Regions from separate parts of the Homo sapiens genome. Here region 2 is linked to region 1. The links come from fine-mapping of genetic effects on gene expression. A gene starts in region 1. The other region holds a variant in brackets. All regions are shown on one strand. Distances are from middle to middle.

What was found. PIP is the estimated chance that this variant, and not a neighbour inherited with it, causes the effect. A credible set is the group of variants that fine-mapping cannot tell apart.
Region 2: its variant is the best candidate, but not a certain one, in a credible set for the expression of SIL1 in whole blood (TOPMed, PIP 0.73).

The regions. Positions count from the first base shown.
Region 1 is chr5:139,195,897-139,200,287 of GRCh38, forward strand. It overlaps SIL1 (SIL1 nucleotide exchange factor), which reads right to left and starts at 2,472. Exons shown (of 10, transcript NM_022464.5): 1 at 2,373-2,472. RefSeq lists a silencer at 2,148-2,677.
Region 2 is chr5:138,939,806-138,944,196 of GRCh38, forward strand. No RefSeq gene overlaps it. Among named protein-coding and RNA genes, the nearest start is that of LRRTM2, 67 kb to the left of the region's middle. The variant A/G (reference allele first, on the strand shown) is at 2,353.

The DNA of each region.
Region 1 (4,391 bases):
TATATAGGCTGTGTGCAGTGGCTCACGCCTGTAATCTCAACATTTTAGGAGGCCAAGACAGAAGAATCGCTTGAGGCCAGGAATTCAAAAACAGCCTGGGCAACACAGCGAGACCCTGTCTCTACAAAAATTAAAATTACAAAATTAGCTGGGCCTGGTGGTGCGCCCCTGTAGTCCCAACTACTCAGGAGGCTTTAGTGAGAGTATTACTTAAGCCCAGGAGTTCAAGGTTGCAGTGAGCTATGATTATGCCACTGCACTCCGGCCTGAACCACAGTGTGAGACCCCATCTGAAAAATAATAATAATAATAATACAGTATGGTTTAATATATTAAAGAAACTGATCTCTCGCATGGTTCAAAAAGGTCTCTGAAAACAATTCCAGAGGTGGATTTTCAAAACTGCCTTGGACAACAGCCAAATCACTTAGGCACGCCATCCTCAACTCCCACCACCTACACCTGCACACATCACTCTAAAGGAGAACATTCATTGGTGGATCAAGTTCCCACATGTCAGTTATTTTAAAATCCATTTTGTTACCTTTCAGTTTCACTTAATTAGCCTCTTCTCCTGCCAATGAAACACACCAGGGCTCACAGTTGGCCTCAGTAGAGAAGTAATAGCTGGCCTTCAGAAAACAGCAGGGAAGGGGAAGTAAGTGGGAATCAAAGTACTAGGCAACTTTTCATTCCTGGACTGCCGCATCCCTACTAACATTTCCATCACCTGTAAAATGGGAGCAGAACGTCTCTTCTATTGCCAATTTCATTAAAACAGCACATGTATTCATGAGCAGATTAAATTCACTAAACAAATGAAAGAAAGGGGAAATAAATGTGGTGTGGTAACACCATCTTAAAAACCCGAGAGCCATGTTCTCAAAACCACAGACCAAGTTCTGACCCATGTTATACAAATATCAATCCCAATATCGTTACACTCTGGCTCCCATCAAAATCCTACCCAATCCCCAAATCTGGCTATACTTTTATCAGAAAAGAAAAAAACTTGGGTGGGGTGAGAGCAGAAAAGACACACACACACAACAAAATATCTTTCACAATGTCAAAAAAAAACCTGTTTATATGCCAGGCGAGGTGGCTCATGCCTGTAATCCCAGCACTTTGGGAGGCCGAGGTAGACAGATCACCTGAGGTCAGGAGTTCGAGACCAGCCTGATCAACATGGAGAAACCCTGTCTCTATTAAAAATAGAAAATTAGCCGGGCACGATGGCGCATGCCTGTAATCCCTGCTAATCGGGAAGGTGAGGCAGGAGAATCGCTTGAACCTGGGAGGCGGAGGTTGCTGTGAGTCGAGATGGCACCATTGCACTCCAGCCTGAGAAACAAGAGCGAAACTCCGCCTCAAAAAAAAAAAAAAAAAAAAAAAACTGTTTATAAACACATCACTTTCTTCTCTTAGCAAATATGTAAGTTTCATTCTCCTCCTGTCTACTTAGTTTGGGTTAACTTAACCCCCGCCCCATCTCTCAGATCATGTTTTTATTTAGGTTTATTGAGGTGGGAAAGCCAACTGAACTTTAAACGAAGCCAGGCATTTAAGAATATTAGAAAACTGATCTTACATATATAGGTAGTCAAATATTTTTAAAAGACATCAAATGGCATTCTAATTCCTCCGGTGCAAAGAAAGCCCCAGCCTCACACGTGTTAGCATTTCCTGATTCCTGGCTTTTCCCACTCAGAGCCCCATTCCAGGGGCTCATATGTCAAGTCATTCTCTCCTGACTTCTGAAGCAGGGATTTTCAAAGCCAGGATTCCGGGACCACCTGAATGAGAACCCCCTGGGGTACAGCTGCCCACGCACCATCTTATCGGAAATCCCAGGGAATGGAGCCCAAGGCTTATGCACAAAGCCCCTAGACGATCCGAGAGATAACACTAACCAGTCTGTAACCTCTAAAGGCAAATTTTCCAGGACAAAGAAAAACAAGCAATAAGAGAGTGACAATAATTCCACATGGGAAGAGACACACGGGTCTCGGAGATCAACACCAAACCACCCCTTCTTCGGACAGATACGGAAACTTAGGCTGGGAGAATGAAACAGGCAAGGGCACTAAAAACAGGTGCGGAGCCAAAGCCAATCTCAAATTTCCACGGCCCCATCTCCTGCCAATAAAGAGGTGAATGGAGACATTCTGAGTGGGAAAGATAAGAAAGGTAGGCCTTCGGCAGGGAGCCCCGGGCCCACTTGGACGTCCCGCTTTGGAGACACTAGTGAGGATGTGTGGGTCCCCAGAACACTGCTGGGAAGGCGCCGAGGCCGCCGGCAGGAGGAGGCCCAGGAAGCGCCCTGAGCCCCCCGCCCAGCTCCAGGGCCGGGCGGCCCTCACCGCCCCTACCTTCGGCCTCCGGCAGCCGAGTGGCAGACACAACTCCCACAATTCCAGGCGGCCGCGGCGGCGACCAGCTCCCCCTGCGCAAACGCGGCGGCGACCGTCTGAGCCGGTGAGCTGGCAGCTGTCACGCCGCTCGCGGCCTCGCCCAATCGCGGGCCGCCAGACCAGCGCGCGGCGCCCCCCGCCCCGCACCGAGGTGGGAGCCCCGCCCCTAGCCCCGCCCTCTGCAGACTCTTGCACGAGCTGCCCCCGTGCCCCTCCCCTTGGGGGGAGGGAGGGCTGAAGAGATAGCTTCACGCCTGCTTTTGCTTCCAGGCTGGAACTGCGAAGTTTCCTGTCTGATTTTCCAACAATGTAATTTCTTTCTAGCGGAAGGACCCTCAGAAAGCAATCAGAGGGGTGCGGAGTAAAAATAAATCAAGTTCTTGTGACTCAGTTTGGGACAGAAGCCGAGAGTCTCCAGCAATAAAATTTCTCGCAAATTCATGCAAAATAGGACACCTTTAAGCCACTCACTTTATATACTTGTGTAGATTTTTTACAAGGACCAGTTATTTTAAAAATAGCATCAGGTGGCCGGGCGCGGTGGCTCACACCTGTAATCCCAGCACTTTGGGAGGCCCAGGCAGGCAGATCACTTGAGGCCAGGAGTTCAAGACCAGCCTGACCAACATGGTGAAACCCCCGTCTCTACTAAATATACAAAAATTAGCCAGGCGTGGTGGCGAGCGCCTGTAATCCCAGCTACTTGGGAGGCTGAGGCAGGAGAATCGCTTGAACCCACCAGGCAGAGGTTGCAGTGAGCTAAAATCGTGCCACTACACTCCAGCCTGGGTGACAGAGTGAAACTCTGTCTCAAAATCTAATAAAATAAAATAAAGGTCACTTGCGATTCTGATTTTTTTTTAAGACAGAATCTGTGTCCCCCAGGCTGGAGTGCAGTGGCAGGATCTTGGCTTATCACAGCCTTGACCTCCCAGGCTCAAGGGATCCTCCCCCTCAGCCTCCATCCAGTAGCTGGGACCACAGGCGCGTGCCACCGTTGCCAGGCTAATTTTTTTTTTTTTTTTTTTTTTACAGACAGGGTCTCGCTATGTTGCCCAGGCTGGTGTCAACGCAGTTGTAATTCTGCTGTACCAGTGAATATCATGCTTTCTGTACCAGGTGCTGCATATATATTTTATTTACTTATAACGTCCTCTGAGCAGAATGGTCATCCCCTTTTTATAAATGGAGAAGCTGACGCTCAAAGAGGCTAAAGGAGTTATACAAAGTCATACAGTCAGGAAGTGGTAGAACTGGGAGTTAAAGCTAGATTTAAGTGTCTCCAATGTCCTGTTCTCTTTCCACTATTCCACTTTTAGACCTTCCCCTTGCCTAGACATGCTTAACCTGATGAATAAAAATGACTGCCCCCTCCTGCCCTCAGATCCCCCACATAGTGATTCCTGGTCATTCATGAGTGGAGAAAACAGTAATCCAGACAGTTACCTCCCCAAATGGCAAGTATTTCCCAATAGCAAACAACCTATTTCTGGACTTCCCTTCCCTTTTCCATGTACTCTATGAGCTTCTAGCAGACAATTTACCTTCTTGATTATGTTTACTTCAAGCAGATGGGAAACTGACTTCATAGCCACTGAGCAAACCTTGGTTACTAGTATGGGAAGGGAGAACAAGCCCCTGGGCAGTAGTTCAGTGAATAGTGCCAGTTTATGAGAAAGGTCTAGATAAAACACCTAGGGCCTGATTTGGAAAGAGAACAGCTCACTTTTCCCCTGGAACACCCAGGAGACCAGTGAGAAGAACTGGGCCTAAGAATAATTCTAGCTTATGTCACTGCCTAGTACCATAAGTACAGATAATAAATATTCAACAAATATTTCATGAGTGATAAATTAGAGAATGAACATATAAATTATAATAAGACTGGCACGAGTTATAAAAAAGATGTTAATAAAGTGCTACAAGAGTAAGAGCCTTAAAAATAGAATAAGCTCAAATCTTATAATAGCATGAATA
Region 2 (4,391 bases), 260 kb before region 1:
TAAAATTATAAAACTCTTAGAAGAAGACAGAAGAGAAATCTTTGTGACTTTAGAGTTAGGCAGAGTTCTTAGAGACAACATCAAAGTCACCATTCATAAAATTTAAAAATGGATAAATTAGACTTCATTAAAATAAAAACCTCTGTGAAATTGTTAAAAGAATAAAAACTTACAAACAGAACATATTTGTAAATCACATATCTGACAAAGGACTTGTATCCAGAAAATGAACAGAACCCTCAAAATTCATTAAGAAAACAGTCAACCAAACGAAAAATTAGGCAAAAAGATTCGATGCCTGTAGTCCCAGCTACTTGGGAGGCTGAGGCAGGAGGATTACTTGAGCCTGGGAGGCAGAGGTTGCAGTGAGCCAAGATTGCACCACTGCACTCTAGCCTGGGTGGCACAGCAAGACTCTAAAAAAAAAAAAAAAAACTGTCTAATGACTGCAGTACCATTTATTGAAAAGACAGTCTTTTCTCCACTGAACTGCCTTTGCATGTTTGTCAAAAATCAATTAACTATATCTGTGTGGGTCTGGCCAATGCCACACTGTGGTATTACAGGTTTATATCTTAAAATCAGCAAGTGTTAGCCCTCCAACTTGGTTCTTCTTTTTCAAAATTGTTTTAGCTATTCTTATTCTTGTTCTTTGCATTTCCATGTAAGTTTTCAAATAAGACTCCTGATACCTAAAGAATTCCTACGGGGACTGCATTGAATCTAGAGATCAATTTTGTGGGGACTGACATCATTTAACAATGTTGAGTCTTCCAACCCATGAATGAACTCAGTAGGTCTGTCCATGTGCTTAGATCTTCTGTGATTTACTTCATCAGTATTTCATAATTTTCAGCATAAAATCCTGCACATATTTCACTTTTCAGTTGATTTTTATACACTGACTTTGTATCCTATGACCTTGCTAAAGTCATTAGCTAGTTCTGTGAAATTGTTTTTACAGATGCCATGGGATTTTCTACATTGACACTCATGTCATCTGTGAATAGGGACAATTTTATTTCTTCTTTTTCAATCTGTATGCTATTTCATTTTCTTGCCTTAAGGCAGTGCCCAGAACTTTTAGTACAATGTTGAAAAGGAGTCAGGAGAGTGGGCATTCTTGCCTGTTTTACAATCTGAGGGGGAAGGAATTCAGCCTTTCACCCTTAAGTTTGATGTTAGATGTAGGTTTTTATGTGGTTTCTGTTCATGAGGTTAAGGAAATTCCCTTCTGTTCCAATTTGCTGAGAGTTTTTATTATGGCTGCTTAATATTTGTCTATATCTGTTGAGATGATGGTGTGGCCTTTTCTTCTTTAGTCTGTTAATATGGTGAACTAATTGAACTAGCCTTGCATTCCCAGGGTACACTCCATTTGGTTATATTATCCTTTTACATATTGTTGCATTCAATTTGCCAATATTTTGTTGAGGATTTTTGTAGAGACTTCAGAAAAATCTAAAGTCTTTGCCATAGCCTACAGGATCTCCTGTCGCCATTACCTCCCTAATCTTGTTGATGACGGGATATTAGCCTGTAGGATATTTTTCTTGAAATATCATTGTCAGGCCGGGCACGATGGCTCACGCCTATAATCCCAGCACTTTGGGAGGCCGAGGCAGGCAGATCACAAGGTCAGGAGTTCGAGACAGCCTGGCCAACATGGTGAAACCCCATCTCTACTAAAAATACAAAAAATTAGCCAGGCATGGTGGCAGGTGCCTGTAATCCCAGCTACTCGGGAGGCTGAGGCAGGAGAATCACTTGAACCTGGGAGGTGGAAGTTGCAGTGAGCCGAGACCGTGCCACTGCACTCCTGCCTGAGCAACAGAGTGAGACTCTGTCGAAAAGAAAGAAAAGAAAAGAAAAGAAAAGAAAAGATATATCATTGTCTAGTATTGGTGTCAGGGCAATGCTGGCCTCATGAAATGAGTTTGGAAATGTTTTCTTCTATTTTCTGGAGGAGACTGTATAAAATTGGTATTAGTTGGTAGAATTTGCTAGTGAAACCACATAGGTCTGGAGTTTTCTCTGTGGAAGGGTTTTAAACAGTAAATTCCATTTCTTTAGTACCTGTAGGGCTACACAGGTTATCTATTGTTGAGTGGGTTTCAGCAGCTTGTGTTAGGCAGAATAATGGCTTCCAGAGATGCCCACATCCTAATCCCTGGGCCTGCGCATGTTATGTTACATGGCAGAAAGCGAATCCAGGTTGCAGATGGAACTGAGGTTGCTAATTGGCTGATTTTCAGATAGGAAGATTATCCTGGATCATCCAGGTGGGCCCACTGTAATCACAGGGTCCTTAAAAATGGAAGATGGAGGCAGAAGAGGAGGTCAGAATGGTGC[A/G]ATATGAGAAGACCTTGACTTCCTTTTTTGGCTTTGAAGACAGAGGAAGGTCTAGGAGCCAAGGAATACAGACAGCCCCTAGCAGCTGGGAAAGGCAAGGGATGGACCCCACCCAGAAAGGAGTACAGCCCTGCGACACTTGGATTTTTGCCCCATGAGAACTGGGCCAGACTTCTAACCTACAGCACTGTAAGAAAATTGACTGGGAATGTTTTAAGGCATAAAGCTCATGGTAATTTGTTAGCATAGCAGCAATAGAAAGCTAATACAGTGAGAGGCCGTGTTTCTCAAGGAATTGGTCCATGATTTCTTCTAAGTTGTCAAATTGATTTTACAATGTATTTATTTAGAGTTGTTCATAATACTCACTACTCACTATCCTTTAATGCTCGTAGAGCCTATAGTGACACCCCGTTTTCATCCGTGAGGCTGCTGATTTATGTCTTCTCTCTTTTTCAAAGGACCATCTTTTAATTTCATTGATTTTCTTTAGTTTTACTGTCTTCAATTTTATTGGTTTCCACTCTTTATTATTTCCTTTTCTTCTGCTTCCTTTGGTTTTAATTTGCTCTTCTTTTACTAGTTTTTAAAAATTACCTTTGCTTTCTTGGTGTTACTTAATTGTACACTTGCATCATTTAGTTTTAATAATGGCTGTGTTTAACAACCAGCTGGCCACATTCTGAACCCTGCGGCTCCCTTGTGTGAGGTTCCCAGGCCTGGTCAGTATCCCCCACCCAGCCTCTCTCTCAGCTCCAGGCTGTCTGCTGCTGCCTGTCAGCACCCCCACCTGGATGTCCTGCTGACATCTCCATATAAACATCAACAGGGTCCACCTCAGAGCCCCAGTCACTCCCCTGTTCTCCAAGCTCCCACTCTGGTACCAGCTCCTCCCCACGCCCATCTGCTCCATCCCCTCGACTCCTCTCCCCACACCCTGCATCCCGCCAGCAGAGCCCTGAGCTCTGCCTCAGCCCCATCTGGAGTCTGCACACTTCTCACAGTCCTATGTCTTCACCCTGCCCCACATCCTTGTCCAGCTGCCCCCTGGATGCTGCCCTGGGCTCCCTGCCCCTCCTGGCCCCTGTGTCATCTATTCTCACCACAACAGTAAGAAAAGGTGAGGCCGGGCACAGGGGCTCACACCTGTAATCCCAGCACTTTGGGAGGTTGAGGCAGCAGGATCGCTTGAGCCCAGGAGCTCAAGACAAGCCTGGAAAACATAGGGAGACCTCTACAAAAAAATGAAAAAAATTAGCTGGGCGTGACAGCTTGCACCTGTGGTCCCAGCTACTTTGGAGGCTGAGGTGGGAGGACCACTTGAGCCTAGCAGGTCAAGGCTGCAGTGAGCCATGGTCACACCACTGCATTCTAGCCTGAGTGACAGAACAAGACCCTGTCTCAAAAAGAAAAAGGTGGGTTACATCAGGTCTCTCCTCTGCACCCAACTCTCAACAGCCCCACCTCAAAGAAAATCCCAGGTCCCTTCCACAGCCTCCCCAGGCGGCCCTCCCTTGCAACTCCTCCCTCGGTCTCTGCCTGCTCCAGGCCTGGTTCTCATGGCTTTTCCTGAAGTGCTTTGGCCTGTTCCTGCAGGACCTTTGCCTCTGCTATCCCCTTGTCTACAAAGCACCCCCATGGCTCACTGCTGCGCTCCTGTGCCTGGCCCCTCCTCAGAGGCCTTCCCCACCACTGAGGGGAAACAGCAGTGCCTACCCCTCTTCCCTTCCCACTGGGCTCTGTCTTCCTTGCCTGGCCCTCCCCTGAAGCATGTGTATTTATCATGGTCCAGCCCTCTCCCCTCCTGTCCTACCACTTCCTGCCCTAGAACAGTGCCTGGCTCGTAGTACCCAACCAGATTTGTTGAACAAATGAATGAATAAGCAGCAGCCCAGAGAACACCTGCTAGGATGAGGGCACAGCCCTTGGCAGGGCTGACAAGCTGCCGGAGGACCCGAAATTGTGGATTCTGCAAATGGCCACTCTCTGGCCTTCCTGTATCTTCCCAGGGCCAGAGCCCTTGCCCTGCCTGCCCCAGA